2 separate regions of the Homo sapiens genome follow, and region 2 is linked to region 1. Evidence: fine-mapped expression QTL. A gene starts in region 1. The other region holds a variant in brackets. All regions are shown on one strand. Distances are between the middles of the regions. Region 1 holds the start of FAM227B (family with sequence similarity 227 member B). Region 2 overlaps FAM227B (family with sequence similarity 227 member B).

Region 1 (16,455 bases):
GAATACACGGATACGTGTAAATGTTTACAAATTCAGGTGCTAAGAGTTTTGCATGTATAGCAGTACTTTTGCCATCTGTTTCATTTGGATGTTTAATGATGTCAATCTTCAATGGAAGCTAAAGGTAAAAAAAGCACAAATAAAAAAATATATAAACATTTTAATTTTTATGTTAATAAAAAGGGTCTTTAAAGCTAAATAGGAAGCTCACAATAAACTCCTATAAATATGCATATGGTTTAAAAGATATACCATAATATTAAGAATGGTGATTGTTACAAAACCAACCCAAATTTCTTCCTTGGCATTGTTATTCATGTATTAGGACAACTATTTTCAACTCATTTAACAGAGAATCTTCTCTTAAAGCAAAGCTCCAATGTCATTTTCACTTAAGTTATATTAACTCCAATTCTTTGCATTTCACCATGTGTGCCAAGGACATTTTAATAAATCCTATAAACTTTAGGTTTGCCTATTTTATGCCATTTTATTTTATTTTTATTTATTTATCTTGAGATGGACTCTCACTCTGCCACCCAGGCTGCAGTGCAGTGGTGTGATCTCGGCTCACTGCAACCTCCGTCTCCTGGGTTAAGCAATTCTGCCCCAGCCTCCCAAGTAGCTGGCATTACAGGCACCTGCCACCATGCCCAGCTAATTGTTGTATTTTTTTAGTAGAGACAGGTTTTCACCATGTTGGCCAGGTTGGTCTTGAACTCCTGACCTCAAGCGATCTGCCTGCCTCAGCCTCCCAAAGTGCTGAGATTACCAGTGAGCCACCACACCTGGCCTCTTACGCTATTTTAAAAAGAAATGTAAGTTTGGGCAAAAAGCTTCAGATCTAAAATTCAAGTTGAAATTCTGTTCCTTAGACATACTTTCAAGTCAAAACTGTTATCCTTTGCAGGAAACATCATGATTTTCGGCATCACATTTTCAATAGCACAAATTAAATAATTATCAATTAAAAAATAGTAACAATAGACCTAAGAGGTGTAATCTTTATATCACAAAACTGTCTTCAAAATCATCTTGCCTAACTACTCCCCAATCTTTCTGGCACCAAGAAGGACTGGTTTCGTGGAAGACAATTTTTCCACAGACCAGGGTTTGGGGAGAGGGTTTGGGGATGATTCAAGCACATTACACTTATTGTGCACTTTATTTCTATTATTATTACATTATAATATATAATGAAATAATTATACAACTCACCATAATGTAAAATCAGCAGGATCCCTGAGCTGGTTTTCCTGCAACTTGATGGTCCCATCTAGGACATGGGAGACAGTGACAGATCTTCAGGCATTGGATTCTCCTAAGGAGCATGCAATCTAGGTCCCTTGTATGCACAGTTCACAATAGGGTTCATGCTCCTATGAGAATCTAATGCTGCCGCTGATCTGACAGGAGGCAGAGCTCAGGTGGTAATGCGAGTGATGGGGAGCGGCTGTAAATACAGACGGAAGCTTCGCTTGCTCTCCAGCAGCTCACCTCTTGGTGTGCGGCCTGGTTCCTTAGGACCGGTACTGGTCTGTGGTCTGGGGATTGGGGACCCCTGTTGCCTAAGTATTTCCCTTGAAGTTTCATTATTTGTTATAGATGTTGTCTGTAACATGTCTCTATGCAAAAATAATATTCTCTTGGATTTTGTAAATTATATTTTTCTTATTTCACTTTGGCTTTTTTGGTTTAGCTCTCTTTGTAATGCTTATACAAGTACTGCATTCAGCCATGATTATGAAAAAAATGCCAAATCATATCTCCCTTACTATATATAAGAAACCCTCTGGAGATGTGTTCTTGACTTCAGCTTTTAAATGACCTTTTGTTTTATTTGGTAGTTCCCACCATCTCCAAGTTCCCATCCCATGCTAAATAAGTAGGATTCTAGGAATTTACCCTGGGCACACTATTTTACCCTGGAGGACAAAACTATTTTTCTTATGTCTTAAACTGTACATATTTAAAGTGTACAATCTAATAAGTTTTAACATATGTTAAATTCTTGAATCCACTGCTACAGTCAAAATAATGATTTGCCACTATCAAAAGTCTTCTCAAGCCCTTCTTCCTTCTCCTCTCACCATCAACAATTGCCCTCCTCAGGCAATCAGTAATCCACTGCCACTATAGTTTGTACTTTCTAGAATTTTATATAAATGAAATCATACAATATACCCTCTTCATTTGACTTTAGCTAAGAATAATTATTTTGAGGTTCTTCCATGTTGTGTGTGTGTGTGTGTCATTAGTTCCAAAACTATTTTTGAATGGAGCAGCTACTAAATAATTTCAATTTCAAATTTTTTTCTTCCTGGACAATTATGTTGGGGACAGAACAGTATAAATAATACACCCCTGGAGGACCTTGGCCTACAAATGAATTCCTCAAATAGTTTTCAATTAGGGTTTCAAATGCTGTATCTCCTACCCTCCCCGCTTAGGCCTAGCAATCATTTATAAGTTAGGCCCAATGATCATTTATAAGTTAGGCCCAATTGCTTCTAATCATCAAACCAACTTCTAGTTATGGAAAATTTACCATTTAAGTAGGCAGTTCACAAATGATTTTACATCAGTCTACTTCTGGCTGAACACTACATCAGAGTTTCCTCATGACGCTCGGTCTCAGTTGAAACTACCTTCCCTCTCCCTAGGGTCTCTGAGCACCACATCAGTATTATCTTAGCCCAGGGAAGGTAGGAAGTAAGAAAAGAAAAAAAAGCAGATCATGACAAGAAAAGAAAAAGAAAGCAGATCATAAATGTGAACTTCTTATATGGCTGATGAGTAAAGCTGAAAATTCCAAAAGTTATCAATATTTCTGATCAGCTAGCTATCTTGGAGGGTATCATTTATATCAAGAACACAGGAGTGTTATTGACAAATTTTATAAATCATGTGCCTAGCCTATTTTTTTAATTATATGATAAAAGAAAAAGCTTTATGAACTAAAGTCTGCAAGCATAATTATGCAAAACCTGTACACAATCCAAGGTATTGTTAGTTTTCCATGAGCGTGAGATCTCTCACATCATAAAACCAAAGCACAGAAACAGATCAAATCATGGAAATCCATGTTTGTGTTCTAGTTCACACATGTTAAAAGAAGATTATTTCTTAAATAATGACAAGAGTACAGAGTAACAAAATAGTGTTGACCACACAGGAACAGAAAACCAAACAACGCATGTTCTCACTCATAAGTGGGAGTTGAACAAGGAGAACACATGGACACAGGGAGGGGAACATCACACACTGGAGCCCGTCTGGGGGTGGGGAGCTAGGGGAGGGATAGCATTAGGAGCAATACCTAATGTAGATGATGGGTGCAGCAAACTACCAGGGCACATGTGTATCAATGTAACAAACCTGCAAGTTCTGCACATGTATCCAAGAACTTAAAGTATAATTAAAAAAGAAAGAAAAAAAATTTGCTTTTTTACAAGCTACAAAAACATTTGCTCTGAGGCTTCGTATGGACATTAAAGCTTAACTGTGTTTAAAAAAAAAAAATAGTGTTGACCAGAGGGCAGTCTGAGTAGAGACATTCTGTTTTCAAACAAGTAAAGAATATCAATCTGCTCTCGAACACTTATGTTTTATAAAAGAGACTTACCACAAATCCTTCTGCCCAAGTTTATCAAAATGCTACTGACAAGGAGACCTAAGCATTTTCCCATGGGATTATCAACTTTCCCCAAGAGAGCCTTTTAAATTCTAGGCTCTAAATGCCTATGGCCTAGCGAAGTGTAACCATTGTAACATTGCACCACAGTGCAGTACTTATATGCTTGTGATGATGCTGATGTAAACAAACTTACTGCACTGCCAGTCATATAAAAGCATGCTATACAATAATGTTTAATAATGATAATATAAATCTGTTACTGGTTTATATATTTGCTATACTACACTTAATTTTTTTAGTTTTAGAGTACACTCATCCTAATTAGAAAAAAGAAATGTTAACTGTAAAATAGCCTCAGGCAGGTCCTTAAGGAGGTATTCCAGAAGAAGGCATTGCTATCATAGGAGATGACAGCTCCATACATTACCCCTGAAGAGCTTCCAGTGGGACAAGATGTGGAGGTGGAAGAAGACAGTGATACTGATGATCCTGACACTGTGTAAGCCTAGGGTAACGTGTTTGTGTCTTGGTTTTCAACAAAAAAAGTTTAAAAAGTAAAAATAAATAAATAATAAAAATAGGAATAAGGTTACAGAATAAGAGCATAAAGAAATATTTTTGTTCAGCTGTGCAATGTGTTTGTGTTTAAATGTAAGTGTTATCACAAGTTTTTTAAAAAGTTTATAAAGTAAAAAAGTCACAGTAAGCTAATTTATTATTGAAGAAAAATATTTTTCATAAATGTAGTGTACCCTAAGTATACAGTGTTTATAAAAACTACAGTAGTGTACAGTAACATCACAGGCCTTCACATTCACTCACAAGTCACCACTGACTCACCAAGAAAAACTTCCAGTCCTGCAAATTCCATTCATGCTAAGTGCCCATAAAGGATTACTATTTTTATACTGTACTTCTACTGTACTTTTCTATGCTTATATTTGTTTAGATACACTAATACCATTGTGTGTACAACTGTGTACAGTATGCAGTACAATAACATGCTGTACAGATTTTGTAGGCTAGGAGCAATAGGTATTGCCCAGGTGTATAGTAGGCTATACTATGAAGGTTGTGTAAGTACATTCTATTATGTTTGCACAACAGTGAATTTGCCTAACGACTCATTTCTCAGGACACATTTCTCAGGATGTATCCCTGTCATTAGGAGACATATGACTATATTTATGAATGCATTCCCTAGACTAAAATTGGGAGGGAATTACTCATTATATTGTCATCCTCCTTTCCCAAGTAGGCTATCTAAAAGCAAATGCTGAATGATTTGTTAAAATAAAAATAAAGTAAAAATTGGAAAGGACATTTTGTAGAGCTGTTATTACCATTAATGTATATTAAAGTATCAAATTTTATACAAGGCCATTAAAATATAAACACTTTAGAAAACTCTGCACAGTCCAGACCATTGAGAGATGATCAAACACTAATGTCTTGAGTCATTTCTATTAAATGGTGTATATTAGACCACTGATTTGGAAAATACCCTCTATTATTAAATATCTATGAAAATATCAGCCCTGTAACTATATTACTGATTATTATTATTATAATATGCAATCCATTTTTTAATACAATACACCTTAGGATAAAACTTTTAATGGAATCCCTTCTTTACATGGCTATGAGAGAAATGTAAAATAGAATAATTCTACGTATACTTCAAAAACCATACTTCAAAATGTAACATTCCTGTAAGATAATGGGAAACTTGAAAATAATTATTACCCTCAAGTTCTTGTTTTTTCGGAGCAAACTGTGAAGATCATATTAAATTCCACACTTACTTATTCTTGGCTAGTAAACTTTCCATTAGCCTATACATGTGATTTTAGATGCTGAGGAGACCATGGACTGGCCAAGATGATATAGGCTAAACTGAAATTCAAATAAAATATGAGTGTCAAAGTACTCTTCTTACTTCAAATTCAAATGAACTTTAAAATCATCAAAACAAATTTTAAAATATAGCTACAACTTATTTTTTTTTTACTGGCAAGTTCTAATGAGTCCATGTGTAGAATTTAGTCTCTCTAAAGTCTTACACAGTCAAATTTTATACATTAATTGATTTATTCCTAAAGTTTGGGATAATGTTAGACAAGTTAACATATATATAATAAATTCTTTGATTATGTAGACATGACGTTCTACAGACCTTTTACCTATACAAAAGTAGTGTTGGTGAGCCCAAAAAGTATAAAGGTAAGCAATCAAATCGGGCTTAAAATCACTCTAATGATAACACAGCCCAGGGAATTGGTCTTAGTTTTTAAATTTTACTTTATTTTCATTTTGGTCAATGAAATCTGCTCCATCCCCATGTATAGGATAAGTCACAAAATCTTAGGTGAAAATCAACTCTAATTCTACTAGAATAGTATTTTCTCAAGGAGCAGTCCAAAGACATGAGTGTTTGGAGCTCCTTCAGGGTGTCTATAAACTTTTTTTTTAGTATTCATAAGTTTATATCACACATTTTTTCCCATGTTGTAAATAAATTAAAATCATTAATGAAAAATTAATTGGTTTCATTAAAAACACCATTTCAGACCCAGAGACAAGAAAAACAAAGAGGTTTAGTGGTCTGTAGGGCTAAATTTTCCATAAATACACTTGGTTTTCATGCTAGGAATGATAAATTCCTCTTCAAAATGTTTAATTGTGTGATGTTCTTATTCTTTGTTCAGAAGCCCAAGCTCCTTGTACTCTCGTTTCCAGCCTGCAAACAACCCTCCCACTCTTGTTGTGCCCTGACATGGCCAAACATGTCCAGACATGCCTTATACTATAGTGGACAGACCACTCCTAACCCCTCCTTTTACAAATCGTGCATTTACCCTATTTGGAAAATTTTAAGTCTTAGCCAACTGGAATCAGTTTTGATTGTGTGGTCCAACCCTAGCCAATAAGGGAAGGACACAGGGACAGGAACTGCATTAGGGTTAAAAATCCCTTCCTTCCTTTGTTCGGTGTGCTCTTGCGATCAGGCGCAGCACCCTTCTGCAGAAGTAAATGTGCCCTGCTGAGAAATTTTCTGTCTAAGTGCTAGTTTTTCTTTGCAGCAACAAGCACTTGTTTCTAACAATAATAACATTATTTATTAAGTTTATCAATTAGAGTAGGTATACATGAGATGTTTTTAAAAAATCTATTTTCATACTTTCAAACAATTAAATTTCTTACTAACCTTCACAAGTGGAATCTGTTCAATAGGTACATTTTCAACTGGAACATAACATGTATAGCAGTAGAACATTCTGGAACCACCACATTTGAGACATTTTGATCTCCCACTTTGCTGAGCTTTTTGAAGAACTTCTTGAGATGCTAAACATAAGTTTTGAAGGGGATCTTCTGAAGCTATGGAAGTAGTTTGTGACTGTTTTGTTTCCACAAATTTTGAACTATTTTCTTCACTTCGTTTGAGAAATATAGGTGGATTGAGAGACATTCTTCATTCAAACCAAAGTTTAACGGCTATTTCTAAAACACATATCATAGGTGCACTGTAAAAAAAAAGTATCAAGAGAAGGAAAAATAAAAACAGAAAACATTTTACTCAGTCTACAAAGAAAATTACTCAATTTAAGTCACAATTGTGTGCTGTTTTAGTACTTATTAAACATGTTTTAAACCACCAAATTGGCACACTTTAAAACATAAGATTAAAAGCAATAAACTGAAAGTTATTTCAAATATAAAGTTCAGGTACTGAGAATCCATTTTTCAAGAACCCTTTTTTGTTCCAGAGATGGCAGTTTTGTTTTCCAGATATTAGGAATGCAATGGTTTCACGTTAGCATCAGACAGGGATATATTCAACCCTGTTGGCTCTGACTTTGAATTGACATTAATGAAAAATAGAAGATTCTAGTGGAATTGGCAAAATTTAGTTGGTTATGTTCTAAAAGATATAACCCTCTCCAACTTAAACACACACTACATATGTGTGAGTGTGTCTGTGTACATGTGTGCATATACATATAAAACTTCATATCCAATAAAAAATAAGAGGCATCTACTACTCATTACAATTTGTAAAATATCCCATAAGGTAAAATATATTATCCTATAAATTTTAAAAATTTACAGAGTAACATTAATGTCCACTTACTCTAAGAATTTATGTTTTTTAAAAACATACATCATTCAGATTCTTTAGTACTAGAGAAAAATGGTAAAATAACTTTCCCACTTAATATTTTCTTCAAAGAAGGGTGATGGCTGCCAAAATTGCTATCTGTATACCCTGTAAGGAAGATATCTTTCAAGGGAGAAACAACACTGGTGCCCTATTGATTCGATATGCATTCCACAGCTGTAAAATAATTCTCTTATTATAAAGCCTTCTGGCATTGTGGTTTAACTACGAAGCTCCAGGCACTTTAAGTAGAAACAGGGACAAGAGAAATGCTGTGACTCCAGCAGGAAACATTTTGTGGTCTCCCAAACAGAAAGTGAACAAAAAGTCCAGAGAAACATAAAATACAACATAATTTGCTGAGAAGAAGTTAGTGGCACTAATTTAATTACTCATCAAATGAATTTTTCTTTTTCTTTTTTTTTTTAAGATTGTAAGTCCCAGTGAGTTTGAGATACAAATAAAGAGATACAAAAACGCCGGTTATAGTAGAAAAAGGCACTTGCCAAATGTACCCAAGGGGAAAAACAAAATACAGTAAATATTTTTGCTGTGTACTGATTACGCACAGATTTGCATTTTGGGTAAGAAAGCAGTATTTAAGAACAATGGTCCAATCCCTTGTTCCTGCCTCACAAATAGAAAATCTTACCTACTTCTGACTGCCACTCCAACTCACCTGCCTAAAAATGGCTTTGATCTTTGTGATCATGCCCTCAATGACTGAAAGTGCAGGATATTAAGATGCCCTCTTTTCTTGAGCCTCAGATTCTTTTAGGAATCACATGAAAATATTAAACCGCATCCCTAGAAAATGCATATACAGACACAATATTTTGCACACAATTTCAGGAGGTTTGGAGATCTCCTAGAGTCCATCTACGACCCAGGTAAGGAAGTTCCAAGCTTGGGAAGGGCCACGCATGGTGGCTCATGCCTATAATACTAGCATTTGGGAGGTTAAGGTGGGAGGATTACTTGAGCACAAGAGTTTGAGAACAGTCTGGACAACAAAGTGAGATCCCATCTCTAAAACAGAGAAAAAAAAAAAGCTTGGGAAGAGATCCTAATAGTCCCCAGAAATGAGAGTTGCAAATGCTCTGTTGGCGTCTCTTTGCTGCACATACGAAGCTAAGTTTCACCTAAACTCTCTTTGGGTTTGTCCTGGTGTTGCCTGAGGTTCTTACAGAGAAACATTTTGAGGCTTTAATAGTCCTGAGTTATTCAGATGATGGGATTCATCCTAAAAAATGAAATTTGATTGGAGTAGCTCAACCTGACTTCATTTCCCTGGGTAATGGAGTAGCTATTTAGTGGGAATGCATGTACCACTCAAAGGCCCAGGCATAGTGGGACTGAAAAATGTAGTTCCTGTGGATGTCATGAAAGTTACTGTGGTTGCCTGACATTTAACAGAAAACTACTGGTGAGTTTTTGGAGTTATCCTAGGGCACTGAAAGTGCATTCCTCCTAGAGATACCTCAGAAATATCACTTTGCAGTTCATGGACCTGCTATCCACATAACTAAATGGATATTAGTGAAGCTTTATATAAATAACCTTCCTCTAGAAAAATCAACCACCACAAATACCTGTAAGACAGTAAAAGAGAAATGTTTATGGCTCCACCTCTTAGTTCACCTATATACTCTCACTTATGGCTGAGGTGGCCACGTAGAAGAGGCCAGCAATTGTAAATCATGGGCAGCTCCCTCCAGTGGTCTCTGAAACTACATGATCAGGGCATCTGTCCTAACCGAGCCAACAGCCTGCCTCGACTGTGAGAAAATCATTGCAAATGATTTTATTGCAAATGGGGTTATTTAAAATTTTTAAAACATACTTGTTAACATCAAATATGTGCAAGGAAGTACAATTTGAGTCATGGGGGCTAAAAAGACTTAGAAAACATAAAGACTGTTCCTAAGGAACTAACAATTTTAACACCTTGATGGTGCGTCCATCATTCTGGAACTTAAGGCTAAAAATACATTAATTTTTTATTCCTCCTTCTACCCAATTTCCACCCCAAATTAATTATACTCACCAAGTTGCATCTACCTTGTATATAATCCTCTATCTTCACTCTCAAAGTCAGGATTCTAATTCAGTTCCTTATTAACTCATAGATGGGCCACAGCAATGTCTTAAACCTCTTTGAGTACTTATTATTAGTTCCACATATTTGACATGGAAAAATGCATTTATTGTGGAGGTACTTTAGTGAATCTATCCCCTCCAGCATTCAACTCTGTAAGAGCAGATTCCTTCCCTGATCTCACCTATTCCTGATTCTTATGCAACAGCAGGAACTCAACAAACACTTGTTAACTAAATCAAAACCATTCTGCAAAACACATCCAGTAAGCATCTCACTACTGAAGTATCTGACAAACTACCTTTATGGGCCGTCTGCAGCCTAGCACAAGTGGCAGGCTGGCAATTTTTTTTTCTCCAAAATAATAACAAAAAGCTTCTACCTCTTCCATTATTGTAAGCTGACTCACCTCCCAATGGAACACTATACAGACTCCCCTGTCCTATATTGTGGACCAATTCAGTATTAGAAAAAAACCACTTCCAATTTTCTTTAGAGTGTTTTTAAGAACTTGGTCACATAGGACCTACAGGTCCAACATTCATTTTTCATAATCCAAGGTAGTAGTACCCTTTTTCATATAGGATCAATGGCCTCTCCCACACCACCCGCCATATGGTAACAAACTGTCTTGCCTTCGTTTTCATGGTGCACTGGGTTAGTCCTTACATGCTGCGATCTACAGTATTGATTTTACCATCCAACTTTGTGGGCCTGGCGACTGAAAATGTTAATATACTTCCTTATTTGTCCTACATTCCCAATAAATAATTTAGACGTAAGAAACAGGCTCTTTTGCTTATTATGTAACCACAACCTCAATATTTTAAATACACTGCATGGCATCACTAATTCTACGTCTGTACTACGCTTCCCCTTCCGTGATAACCAAACCCCCACAAACCACTCCAAATACTAAAAATAAAATAAAATAAAGTATGGGGTTCCTAGGGAACTGACTTTGCCAGGACATACTTTTCGTTGGGGCGGAATGCACCGAAAATCATTGGTAGGAAAAATAATTTTTTTTTTGAGGAAAAATTTGGAAACCTTTTTCCCAAAGGGCCCGCAAGATCCTAAAAAAAGCAAGAGACCGCGCAGAAACCGAGGATCCCCCTCACAGGCGACACCCAGCGCGACCTCCGCTAGGGTCCTGACAAAGAATGTCCACTTCCCGCGGCCGCACCTCTGGGGCCAGACCACTGGTCTCCAGAGAGGCGCGGGGACCTCCACCAGGGATCGGAGTGGTACTCAGACCTGCACACCCGCGAGTCCTCGAACAGCTCCACACGTCTCCAGCTCCGCCCGAGCCCGAGCCACGCGCCGGGCCGTGATCGCGCACGGACCAGACGGAGCGCTTTCCGGGAGACACCAGAGGGAGGAGCCAGGCAGTTACTAGCGTCGTTGCTAAGGCAGGGGCCGCGCACACCGCACACCGCGCGGCTTAAGCAACAGGCTGGGACGACAGCGGGGGGGGGGTTAGACGGGAAGTTCCGCCTCAGCCTCTCAATCAGCGGCGGTGTCGCACTTCTCCCGAGAGGCTCCGGCGAGGGGCAGGGCCGCGTTCGTCCGGGACCCGCCTCAAGCCTCGCAGCCTTTCACCCAGTTTCCTCCCGATTCTTGCTGGGACAACAAAATTGGGAAGCGGTTCTCGAAACATACTGTCAAGGCGTAGTTGCAGTGAGTTGTGAAGAAATGTTGATCCCAGAGAAAAGTTTGCATTTTGCCCACCTCAAAGATATTTTGATTGTGAGAACTTGGTTACATTAGTCTTTCGTGGCTATATCAATATCATTATTTCGTGTGCTGTGTGGTAATGAAAGCTATTAGAAAAATCATTTGTATCTTAATGATTTAGTTTGCATAAAAACACGCATATAGAGTTAAGAGTACTTTGTGTTTTTCCACTTTGAAGTATAATATGTGGATAAGTTATTAGAACATTTGTCCGTGCCTCTCCCCAAACAATGCGCAAACGGAAGTGCACTCTAACAACTAAGATTTTAAAACACAATGGTCAAATGTTGAGCAATGTTTTATTGACTACTCTGAATTTATCAAGTGGTAGATAAAGGACATTACAATGCCCTAGAAGTGCTCACGATATCAAGTAAAGCATGTTAAATTCAAGTACAGAAAATGCAATATTCTTACTACTGAGATAAAAAATGGAATTTAATAAATTACAGGAATTTCAAGAAAGCTGAGAATGGAGTGGTCAATAAAGGCTTCTTTTTCGGACTTGGGTAAGGCCTTGAAGAATGATTTAGGTTTAGGACAGTGTTTTTCAACTGGAAAGGGGATTGTGTGGGACCCATTAGTGGAGGTCTTGACCCATTTGTAAGCAAGGAAATCTCTTTAAACTTAAAAAAAAGAAACAATATAGATTGGAAATATCAGCGCATGTAAGTAAATTTAGTGTTAGTTAGTAAAGTACTGCTTTATGGAGCTTTTAATTGTATATATGCGTGTATGTGTGCACTAGGGCTTGTTTGTAAAATGTATTTCTTACTGTATTTCAAACCTTAAAAAGTTTGAAAGCCAGTGATTTAGGGAGAAAGGTGAATTTTCTGGGTAGGGAAAGTAGAATAGCAAAGTCTATAAGCCAAGAAGAATTCACAACCATTTTCCTTTTTAGTTTAACTCTAAATTTTATCAAAGTAGTTAAATTGCACAGATTAAAAAGCAAATAATACTACTTGTTAGATTGAGCATTGGGTTGCTATCGTATGTAATAAATTACTCCAAAATATGGTGGCTTAAAACAACCATTTTATTATGTTCACAGGTGGTGTTGTCAATAGGGCATAGTCATCAGCTTTTCTTTGGTAACTCAATTAGAAAGACTAGAGTGGGCATGCTAGCAGAGCTTCTGTAACTATATGGCCGGGGTTTCCTCACAGTATGGCAGCAAGGTAGTCAGACTTCTTAGCTTAAACTCAGAGCTCCAAAGGGAGTGTTGCAATGAACAAGGCAAAAATTGCCTGACCTTTTCTGACCTTGCCTCAAAAAGTAACGCGGTGCTACTTCCCCCACTTTCTTTTGCTTACAAATGTGTCAAAGTCCTGTTCCATTTTAGGAAAGGAGACATAGATCCCTCTTCTCAAAGGATTGGCAAAGATTTCTTGTCCATGTTTTAAAACCAGCATAGTGAATTTACTTCTGTAACAGAAAACCCCAAAATATCGGTGGTTTAATACACTTTTTTTTTTCCTCACAAAAGATCCATTGTGGCTATTTCTAGGCAGACGAAATGTTAAATTCAAGGCCAGATGTTTTTATTTTTAATGGTTCTGCTGCCTTCTAGGACTAGCTTGTTTGACAAGAAAGAAAGTATGGCAAATTACCCAAGGTTAACTCTAAAAATGACATGTATCAATTTGGCCACATTCTGTTGGCCAGAATTTAGTCCCAAGGCCCCCACTTTAACTGCCGGGGATCCTGAGAAATGTAGAGAAACACACACATATTGGTGAGCACTAACAGTTTGCCACATTCTAGGTTAAAGAAAACCCTGTAGTACCCAACCCTTCTACTCTATTCTCAATTCTTCTCACCAAAGGAAAATTCAAGTCTTTTAAATATTTCATCTGTTACCCCCATGTCTAAATATACTTACATTGCAGTTTCTTGATTTTCCAATTTCAGACATTACCCACTGACTTTCTCCTGTGGAAGGCAGTGATAAAGGTCTTTTGTAACAACACCACCTCCAAGTGTGTGAACATTCCCTCTCTACCTCATACACTCTTCTTGTCCCTTCACCTGTCAATAGTGATATCATAGGCTTTGGCTAAATCAACATTTAGTGTTATCACTACTGTCTAGGTAAATGTCATTCAACCCCAAGGCACATAGTATACTAAGATCGCATTAACTTTTAATACAACTTTTTACTTTCCTTTCTCTTAACTGCCATTTTTAATGTATTATTTATCTGTTCTCAAACACTGGCAAACTGCTAAAGCATCACAGTGAAATACATCAGTTAATCCAGTAGATTTTTTTTCCTTACAGATACTCTTCCTACAGCGTTACAGCCTTTAGTTTATTTAGGATTGCTGGTTTCTCCAACATAATACTGCTCTCCTGTGTGTTAGATCCCTTGTTTCCTTTTTCTTTGTTTAATCCCTTTTTAAAAATGAACTACATTCTCTAATACCTTCTTGGAAAAAGGTAAATAGGAGTGTAGTAGATAGAATAATGGCCCCCAAAGATGTCTATATCCTTACCTCCAGAACCTGTTGATATTTTATATGGCAAAAGGAACTGCATATGTGATTAAGGAGATGGGCTAAATTACCCTGGATTGTCTGGGTGGCTGGACATAATCAAAGAGTTCTTATGAGAGGAAGACAAGATGTCAAGAGAGGGGAGAAGACTCTACACTGCTGGCTTTGAAGATAGAGGGAGGAGCTCTGAGCAAAGGATAGCAGGTGACTGCTAGAAGCCCCTTTTCTCACAAAAAGATCTTCTGGGAGAAAAAATTATGTGTATTAAGCCATTGATATTTTGTGTTTTTTTTGTTACACAAGTAAATTTACTATGCTGGGCGACAAGAGTGAAACTCTGTCACACACACACACACACACACACACACACAAAACATGAAAGGAGCATAGCCCTGCAGACCCATTTCAGATTCCCGACCTCTAGACCTGTGAAATAATAAACTTTGTGATTTTTTAAGCCACTTTGTTAGCTGTTTGTTACAGCAGCAATAAGAAACTAATATGAGATGAATTTTTTTTTAGTATCTTGCAAATCTGAAAAATGCCACACATTTAATTGATGCTCTGTTTATATTTAAATTTACAGATTGAAAGTCATTTTCTGGCATAATCCTCTAAATTATTGTTTTTTTATCCTCTGATTCTTGTTTACTTTAACATTTTTGTTCTAGTTTCTAGAAGATTTCTTCAGCTATTTTTCACTAGACTGTTGTTGAATAATTTATATCATATTTGTACTTTGCATTTTTTCTTATTCTGTATTCATTTATAACATGCAGTTTTGGTTTCAGGGATGCATTATCTTATTATAGCTCTCTATGAGTCTTAAAGACTTTTTTGAAGTTTCCTTCTGTTCCCCACATTGTCTGTATATGCCTAGATTTTATTTTTAGTCACTTGTTTGGATTTCCATTTTTTAAAAATATTTTTTATTTCACAATTAGTCCATAAATAATAATCTTTAGCTTTCTATCCATTTTGAAATACAAGGATTAAAATGGTGATAGAAAGCCTCATGGTGTCTCAACAGGAATTGTCAAGCATTCAGCTTCATAGTAGAGCAAGGTTTATCATTGGAAGTTTCTCAAACATTTAAAGAAGAAAAGGGACTAATAAAGATAAGAATAAATCAATGAAATTAAAAACAAATGTGCACTAAAGAAAAGCAACAAGGCCAAAACTGGTTCTTTGCAAAGATTAATAAAATTGATAAGCCTTTAGATAGACTGACCAAGATAAAGAAAAGTACAAATTTCAGAAATGAAAAATGAAACATCACCACAGACACTACAGATTGCAAAGATAATAGGAGGATATTAAGAATAAATATTTATATCAAAATACTTGACATTTCAATTTTTCTTGAAAGATAATTTACCAAAATTAAGAAGTAATAGAATAGCTGAATGATCCTATATTAATTTTGATAGCTTATATCTGTATTAGTCTACCTAGGATGCTGTAATAGAATACCACAGAGTAGATGACTTAAACAACAGTAGTTTATTTTCTCACAGTTTTAAAGGCCAGAAGTCCAAGACCAAGGTGCCATCAGTGTGAGTTTCTAGTGAGGCCTCTCTTCCTGGCTTGTAGACCACTGCCTTCTCACCATGTCCTTACAAAGCCTCTTCTCTTATATAGACAGAGCATCAGTTAAGTGTGTGGCATTTTTCACATCTGCAAAATGCTAAAAAAAAAAATCACTCTTTCTCCTCATATTAGTTTCTTATTGCTGCTGTAACAAACAGCCAACAAGCAAAGTGGCTTAAAACAACACAAAGTTTATTATTTCATAGTTCTAGATATTTTCACAGATAAAATATCTGTGTGTATATGGAGAGAGAGTATAAGCAAGCAAGCTCTCTGGTGTCTGTTCTCATAATGACACCAATCATATTAGAGCCCCACTCTTTTAGTCTCTTTTAACCTTAATTGTCTCCTCAAAGGCTCCATCTGCAAATAAAGTCACATCTTGTTATAAGTGTTAGGGCTTGAACATATGAATTTGGGGTGGGGGCATGATTAGGTCCATAACAGTATCCTTAATTTAAAACTCCCCCATAATTTCAGGTTCAGGTTCAGGGAACATAACTAGCAGTGTCCACCAAACATTTAAGGAAGAAAGGAAGAAATAGTACTGATCTTTCAGATTTTAAATTCTTTCAGATAATAGAAAAAAATAGAGGCATTTCCCAACTCATTTTTTTTGAGACCATAATAGCCTTAATTCCAAATCTTCACATTATAAGATAGAAAAATTCAGGCCAATCTTTCTTATAAACATTATAATAGCTTATATTATTAGCCTTCCCTTGTCCATTTCTTG
Region 2 (8,000 bases), 120 kb after region 1:
CCTACTCTTTGGGAAGTTATTCTTTAGTTAATCTGATTCTAGAATTATTTAATTAGTTAATTATTCTTCTTCAGATCTGAGAATTTTGAATTTAGAGCATCACTATTTTAACTGTGGTTTTCTATATTCTTATCGCAGTATATATCATCCAATATGATTTCTATCTTTTATTAGTTACAGGAAATTTTCTTGTTTGCTGTCATCCTCAGTGTTTTACCAAAACTTCGTATATATTGTTATGGGGGGTGGGGGGCTATTTCTAGGGATTTCTGATAGAAAGAGTAATAGTCTACTATCTTGAGCCAATTTTGTTTATCTGTTTTGACTTCTCACCCTCACATATGAATAACTAAATTGAGAGTATTTTGTGAACTTTCCATTTTCTTTTTAAGTAACAGAAAAGTGGTAAGAATAGCATTAACAACTCCCATATATCCTTTACCTACCAATTATTTATATTTTGCTTGTTCTTTAAATCATTCTCTTTCTTCTTTTTTCACATAAGCAATTAAAGATTAAATTTCCCTAAGCACTGCTTTAAGTGTGTTGTATTTAGATATGTTGTATTTTATCACTTAATTAAAAATTTTCTAACATTTACTGTAATTCCTACTTTGACCCATTAGTAGGTCAAAGTAGGGTTATTTAGAAAAGTATTGTTTAATTTCCAAATGTTTGGGACCTTTCTAGATATCTTAAAATTACTGATGTCTAATTAAAAAAAAACTACTGTGGTCTGAGGGCATACTCTGTATGATCTTTTGCAACGTGTTGAGACTTGTTTTATGGTTCAGAATGTGGTCTGTCTTGGTGAACATTCCATGTACACTTGAGAAGAATGTATATCTGCAGTTAAAAAAAATCTCAATTAGATCAAGGTGGCTAATAGTATTATTCAGATCTTCTGTATCAAGTCAGCTAACTGTAGCCTGTGGATTAAATCTGGTGTGTAGCATGTTTTTATACATTCTATGAACTTAGAATGGTTTTTGCATTTTTAAGGGTTGTAAAAAACAAAAACGTAAAACAAAATAAAGAATATGTGACAGAGACTACATTGGCCTGAAAATCCTACAATACTGACTTGCTTTTTATAGAAAAATTTTGCTCACCCTAGTTCTATATCTTTATTGATATTTTATTTAGTTCTATTAATTACTCAGAGGGGATATTAAAATATAATTTTAGAATTATCTATTTCTCCCTTTAATGTTATTGATTTTTGCTGTATCCATTTTTAAATTATTGAGCAAATATACTTTTATTAGGTTTTTCCTTTAACCATTATAAAATGTTCCTTTGTAGCTGTGATAATTCTCTTTTTTTGAGTTCATTTTGTTTAATCTTAATATAGACACTTCAGTTTTCCTATGCTTATGGTTCACATCGTATCTTTTCTCATCATTTTACATATAACTAGTTCATATTCTTATATACTTTTTGTAAACAATCTGTAGTTGAGTCTTGTTTTTTTATTCAGGATGACAATCTCTTCACTTTAATTTGAAGTGTTACTTCACTTACATTTAATGTAATTATTGATATGATTAATCTTATTTCTACTAGTTTCTATTTGTTTTGAGATTTATCCCATCTGTTCTTTGTTTTCCCTGTCTTCTTTTGGTTAATTGAATATTTTTGTCATTCTATTTTAATTCCTCTATTGGCTATTTACCTATACCACTTTTGTATTTTTTGAGGCTGCTTTAATGCTTGCAAAATGCATTCTTAAATTATCAAAATACTATCTAAAGTTAATATTGTCCTACTTAACTTAAAATGTAGGACCTTGGAGCAGTATAGTTACATATACACCCCCGTGTCTTTTTTGCTATTGTCAAATATATCTACATAAATAATAGCCTCACATTATATAGTGTCATGACTTTTGTTTCAAATAATTACATGTTTTTTCAGCTTTTTGAGATCTAATTGGTGTACAATAAATTGCATATATTTAAAGTGTAAAATTTGATGAGTTTTGACGTATGTATAAATCTGTAAAACCATTACAACTCGAGGTAAAAAAACATCTATCTCTCTCAAAAGTTCCTTATGCTTTTTTTGTAATTCCTTCTTGCCACCAACCCACAGGCAATCATTTATGTAATTTTTGTCACTATAGGTTAGAATGCAATTTTCTAGAAGTTTACATAAATGAAATTATATAGAGTGCATGCTGTTTTTCAACTAACATTTTTTATTCCACATAATTATTCTGAGATTCATTCATGTTGTTACATGTATTAATAATCTCTTCCTTTGTATTGCTGAATAGTAGTCCTCCATAGTAGGAATATAATATGATTTGTTTATCCATTCATCTTTTGGTGGCTATTTGTATTGTTCTCAGTATTTGGCTATTATAAATACAGCTGCTATGAACATTTATATACAAGTATTTGTTCGGATATAGGATTTTATTTCTCTTTGATAAACATCTAGTAGTGGGATGACAGAGCAGCATGGTTATGTAACGTATTAGGTCATTCTTGCATTGCTATAAATAAATATCTGAACCTGGGTAATTTAGGAAAAAAGAGGCTCAATTGGCTCATGGTTCTGCAGGCTTTACAGAAAGCATGGTGTTGGTATCTGCTCAGCTTCTAGGAAGGCCTCAGGAAGTTTACAGTCATGGCAGAAAGCAAAGGGGGAGCAGGCACATCACATGGTGAAAGAAGCAGCAAGTGAGAGAAAGTGGAAGGGAGGTGCCACACACTTTTTTTTTTTAAACTTTAACATGCACATGAATGACCTTTATTTTATTAAAAGTTTCTGTTCAGTGGGTCTAGGGTGGGACCTGGGATTTTGCATTTCTAGCAGGCTTCAGGGAACGCGAGTGGTGCTAGTTCCACACACTTTGAGTAACAAAGTTATGAACAATATATATCTGATCTTTTCTTTTTTTTTATTATACTTTAAGTTTTAGGGTACATGTGCACAACGTGCAGGTTTGTTACATATGTATACATGTGCCATGTTGGTGTGCTGCACCCATTAACTCGTCATTTACATTGGGTATGTCTCCTAATGCTATCCCTCCCCCCTCCCCCCACCCCACAACAGGCCCCGGGGTGTGATGTTCCCCTTCCTGTGTCCAAGTGTTCTCATTGTTCAATTCCCACCTATGAGTGAGAACATGCAGTGTTTGGTTTTTTGTCCTTGCGATAGTTTGCTGAGAATGATGGTTTCCGTCTTCATCCATGTCCCTACAAAGGACATGAACTGATCATTTTTTATGGCTGCATAGTATTCCATGGTGTATATGTGCCACATTTTCTTAATCCAGTCTATCATTGTTGGACATTTGGCTTGGCTCCAAGTCTTTGCTATTGTGAATAGTGCCGCAATAAACATACGTGTGCATGTGTCTTTATAGCAGCATGATTTATAATCCTTTGGGTATATACCCAGTAATGGGATGGCTGGGTCAAATGGTATTTCCAGTTCTAGGTCCCTGAGGAATCGCCACACTGACTTCCACAATGGTTGAACTAGTTTACAGTCCCACCAACAGTGTAAACGTGTTTCTATTTCTCCATATCCTCTCTAGCACCTGTTGTTTCCTGACTTTTTAATGATCACCATTCTAACTGGTGTGAGATGGTATCTCATTGTGGTTTTGATTTGCATTTCTCTGGTGGCCAGTGATGATGAGCATTTTTTCATGTGTCTTTTGGCTGCATAAATGTCTTCTTTTGCGAAGTGTCTGTTCATATCCTTTGCCCACTTTTTGATGGGGTTGTTTGTTTTTTTCTTGTAAATTTGTTTGAGTTCTTTGTAGAGTCTGGATATTAGCCCTTTGTCAGATGAGTAGATTGCAGAAATTTTCTCCCATTCTGTAGGTTGCCTGTTCACTGTGATGGTAGTTTCTTTGGCTATGCAGAAGCTCTTTAGTTTAATTAGATCTCAATTGTCAATTCTGGCTTTTGTTGCCATTGCTTTTGGTGTTTTAGACATGAAGTCCTTGCCCATGCCTATGTCCTGAATGATATTGCCTAGGTTTTCTTCTAGGGTTTTTATAGTTTTAGGTCTAACGTTTAAGTCTTTAATCCATCTTGAATTAATTTTTTTATAAGGTGTAAGGAAGGGATC[C/G]AGTTTCAGCTTTCTACATATGGCTAGCCAGTTTTCCCAGCACCATTTATTAAACAGGGAATCCTTCCCCCATTTCTTGTTTTTGTCAGGTTTGTCAAAGATCAGATAGTTATAGATGTGTGGCATTATTTCTGAGGGCTCTGTTCTGTTCCATTGATCTATATCTCTGTTTTGGTACCAGGACCATGCTGTTTTGGTTACTGTAGCCTTGTAGTATAGTTTGAAGTCAGGTAACGTGATGCCTCCAGCTTTGTTCTTTTGGCTTAGGATTGACTTGGCAATGCGGGGTGCCACACACTTTTAAACAACCAGATTTTGTGTTAACTCAGAGTGAGAGCTTACTTATCACCAAGGGGATGTCCCAAGTCATTCATGAGGGCTCTGCCTTCATGATCCAACCACTTCCCACCAGACCCCACCTCCAACACTGGGGATTACATTTCAACATGAGATTTGTACAGGGACAAATATCCAAACTATATCATTTCACCACTGACCCCTCCCAAATCTTGTCCTTCTCACATTGCAAAATACAATCATGCCTTCCCAACAGTCCCCGAAAATCTTAACTCATTCCAGCATTAACTCAGAGGTCCAAAGTCTCATCTAAAACAAGGCAAGTCTCTTCCGCCTATGAGCCTGTAAGGTCAAAAACAAGTTACTTACTTCCAAAATACGATGGGAGTATAGGCATTGGGTAAACATTGCCATTCCAAAAGGGAGAAATCGGCCAAAAGAAAAGAACTGAAGGCCCAATGCAAGTTCAAACCTGGCAGAGCAGTCATTAAATCTTAAAGCTCCAAAATAACCTCCTTTGACTTTATGTCCCACATCTAGGGCACACTGGTGCAAAGGATGGGCACCAAAGGCCTTGGGCAGCTTCACCCCTGTGGCTTTGTGGGGTTCTGCCTCCACAGCTGCTCTCACAGGTTATTGAGTGTCTGTGGCTTTTTCAGATTCAGGGTGCAAGCTGCCAGTAGATCTACCGTTCTCGGGTCTGGAGGGCAGTGGCCCCCTTCTCACAGTTCGACTAGGCAGTGCCCCAGTGGGTACTCTGTGTGGGGGCTCTTATCCTACATTTTCCCTCTTTACTGCCGTAATAAAAGTTATCTATGAGGGCTCTGCCCCTGCAGCAGGCTTCTGCTTGGGCAACCAGGCTTTTTCATACATCCTCAAATCTAAGCAGAGGCTGCAAAATGATCTTCACTCTTGCATTCTGTGCACCTACAGGCTTAACACCATGAGGAAGCTGCCAAGTTTTATAGCTTGCATTCTCCAAAGTGGCAGCTCAAGCTGTACCTGGACCTTTTAAAGCCCCAGCTAGAACTGAAGCAGCTGGGATGCACAGAGCAGTGGCCCAAGACTGTGCAGGACAGCAGGTCCCTGGGCCTGACCCATAAAACCATTTAGTCTTCCTAGGCCTCAGGGCCTGTGACTAGAGGACCTGTGTCTTAGATTTCTGGGATGCCTTCAAGGCCTTTTTCCCATTGTCTTGGTTATTAGCACTTGGCTCCCTTTTGTTATGCAAATTTCTCTAGCAAGTCATTGCTACAAAGCCTACTTGAATTATTCTTCCAAAAGAGCCTTTTCTTTCTCTGCCACATGGCTAGGCTGCCAATTTTCTAACCTTTTACGTTATGCTTCCTGTTTAAATATAAGTTCCACATTTATCATTTCTTTGCTCCTGCATCTGAGTGTCGTCTGTTGCAAGCAGCCAGGGTTACATCTTGAATACCCTGTTGCCTAGAAATTTCTTCCACCAGATACCCTAAATTATCACTCTGAAGTTCAAGCTTTCACAGATCCCTAGGGCAGGGAAACAATGCAGCCAAGTTCTTTGCTAAGGCACAACACAGATGACCTTTGCTCCAGTTCCCAATAAGTTTGTTATTTCCATCTGAGACCTCATCAGCCTGGGCTTCACTGCCCATATCAGTATCAGCATTTTGACCACAACCATTTAACTAGTTTCCAAGAAGTTCTGAACTTTCCCTCATCTTCCTGTCTTCTTCTGAGCCTTCCACACTCTTCCAGCCTCTGCCCATTATGCAATTCCAAATCTGCTTCTGCATTTTCAGGTATCTTTATAGCAATGCCCTACTCCTGGTACCAACTTTCTGTATTAGTTCATGCTTGTGTTGCTATAAAAGAATACCCGTGACCAGGTAATTTACAAGAAAAAGAGGTTTAATTGGCTCATGGTTCTGGATGCTCTACAGGAAGCACGGTGCTGGCATCTGCTCAGCTTCTAGAGAGGCCTTAGGAAGCTTACAATCATGGCAGAAGGTGAAGGGAGAGCAGGCATGTCACATGGCAAAAGCAGGATCAAGCAAGAGGGGGGCAGAGGTGCCACACAATTTTAAACAAGCAGACCTCATATGAACTCAGAGCAAGAGCTCACTTACCACCAAGGGAATGGCCCCAGCCATTCTTGAGGGATCTGCCCCCATGATCCAGCCACCTCCCACCAGGCCCCACATCCAACATTGGGGATTACATTTCAACATGAGATTTGGTTGGGGGTAGATATCCAAACTATATCACGTATGTATAACATTTTAAGAAATTGTCAATCTCTTATCCGAAATTTTACATTTCTACCAGTATACAAGTTATATTTACTTCCTTACTAACACTTGTTATGGTCTTTTTAATTTTAGCTATTCTCGTGAGTTATATACTGGTATTTAGCTAGGTTTTATTTTAATTTCTCTGATGATCAATCATGATGAGCTTCTTTTCATGTGCTTATTTGCCATCCATGTATCTTAAAGCTCCAAAATAACCTCCTTTGACTTTATGTCCCACATCTAGGGCACACTGGTGCAAAGGATGGGCACCAAAGGCCTTGGGCAGCTTCACCCCTGTGGCTTTGTGGGGTTCTGCCCCCACAGCTGCTCTCACAGGTTATTGAGTGCCTGCTGAAGTGTCTGTTCAAATATCTTGGCCATTTTTATTTGAGTTGTTTGTCTTCTTATTGAGTTATAAGAGGTCTTTATATATTTTATGCTTATTTATTTAGTTAGTTCGTTTTTAAAGACAGGATCTTGTTCTGTCACCCAGGCTGGAATACAGTGCCATGATCATAATTCACTGCAGCCTAGAAAAAAGTTATTCATGTATTTAGAAACAGGTCCTTTTTCAGATACATATTTTACAAATATTTTCTCCCAGTATGTTGCTTGCCCTTTCATTTCTTAATAACATCTTTTAAAAAACAAAAGTTTATAATTAGAAGAAACCCATTTATCAATTTTTTAATATAGTTTGTGCTTTTTGCATTCTATTTAATAATATTTGTGAACCCAATTTCACATGGAAATTTTATAGTATGTAGCTTTATAGTTCAGAGTTGTAGCTCTTACTTTTAGGTCTCTAATTCATTTTGAGTAATTTTTCTTAATTATATGTATAAACATTAAGAATCACTTCTTTGCATATTGCTTTAGCACCATTTGTTGAAAAGATTATCCTCTCCTCATCGAATTATCTTGGAAATCAATTGACCATACATATTGGTTTATGTCTGTTCTCTGTATTCTGTTCCACTGATGCCAATAACCAGCTACCTTTAAAACTGTAGTTTTATAATGTATCTTGAAGTTAGGTACTATAAGTCCTCCAAGTTTGCGCTTCTTTTACACAATTATTTTGGTTATTCTAGATTCTTGTCATTTCCATATAAATTTGAAAAACTGCTAGTCAGTTTCTAAAATATATACTCGGGCATCTTTATTTTAAATACATTGTATTGATCAATTTGGGGAGAATTGGTATCTTAACAAAGTGAGTTTGTCAGTTCACAAACATAGAATATGCCTATATTTATATAATACTTCTTTAATTTTTCTCAGCAATGTTTTCTAGTTTTTACTATACAGACACATCTTTTTCCAATTATACAT

What was found.
Region 2: its variant is fine-mapped to the expression of FAM227B in whole blood (TOPMed, PIP above 0.99). The same link has a PIP of 0.9 or more in fetal neocortex.

The regions. Positions count from the first base shown.
Region 1 is chr15:49,615,822-49,632,276 of GRCh38, reverse strand. It overlaps FAM227B (family with sequence similarity 227 member B), which reads left to right and starts at 11,459. Exons shown (of 16, transcript NM_152647.3): 1 at 11,459-11,577. It overlaps DTWD1 (DTW motif tRNA-uridine aminocarboxypropyltransferase 1), which reads right to left and starts at 11,229. Exons shown (of 5, transcript NM_001144955.2): 1 at 11,155-11,229; 2 at 6,846-7,164; 3 at 1-118. The coding sequence starts at 7,109. RefSeq lists enhancers at 5,952-7,151, 10,998-11,117.
Region 2 is chr15:49,499,336-49,507,335 of GRCh38, reverse strand. All of the region lies in intron 11 of FAM227B (family with sequence similarity 227 member B), which reads left to right. Among named protein-coding and RNA genes, the nearest start is that of FGF7, 80 kb to the right of the region's middle. The variant C/G (reference allele first, on the strand shown) is at 4,096.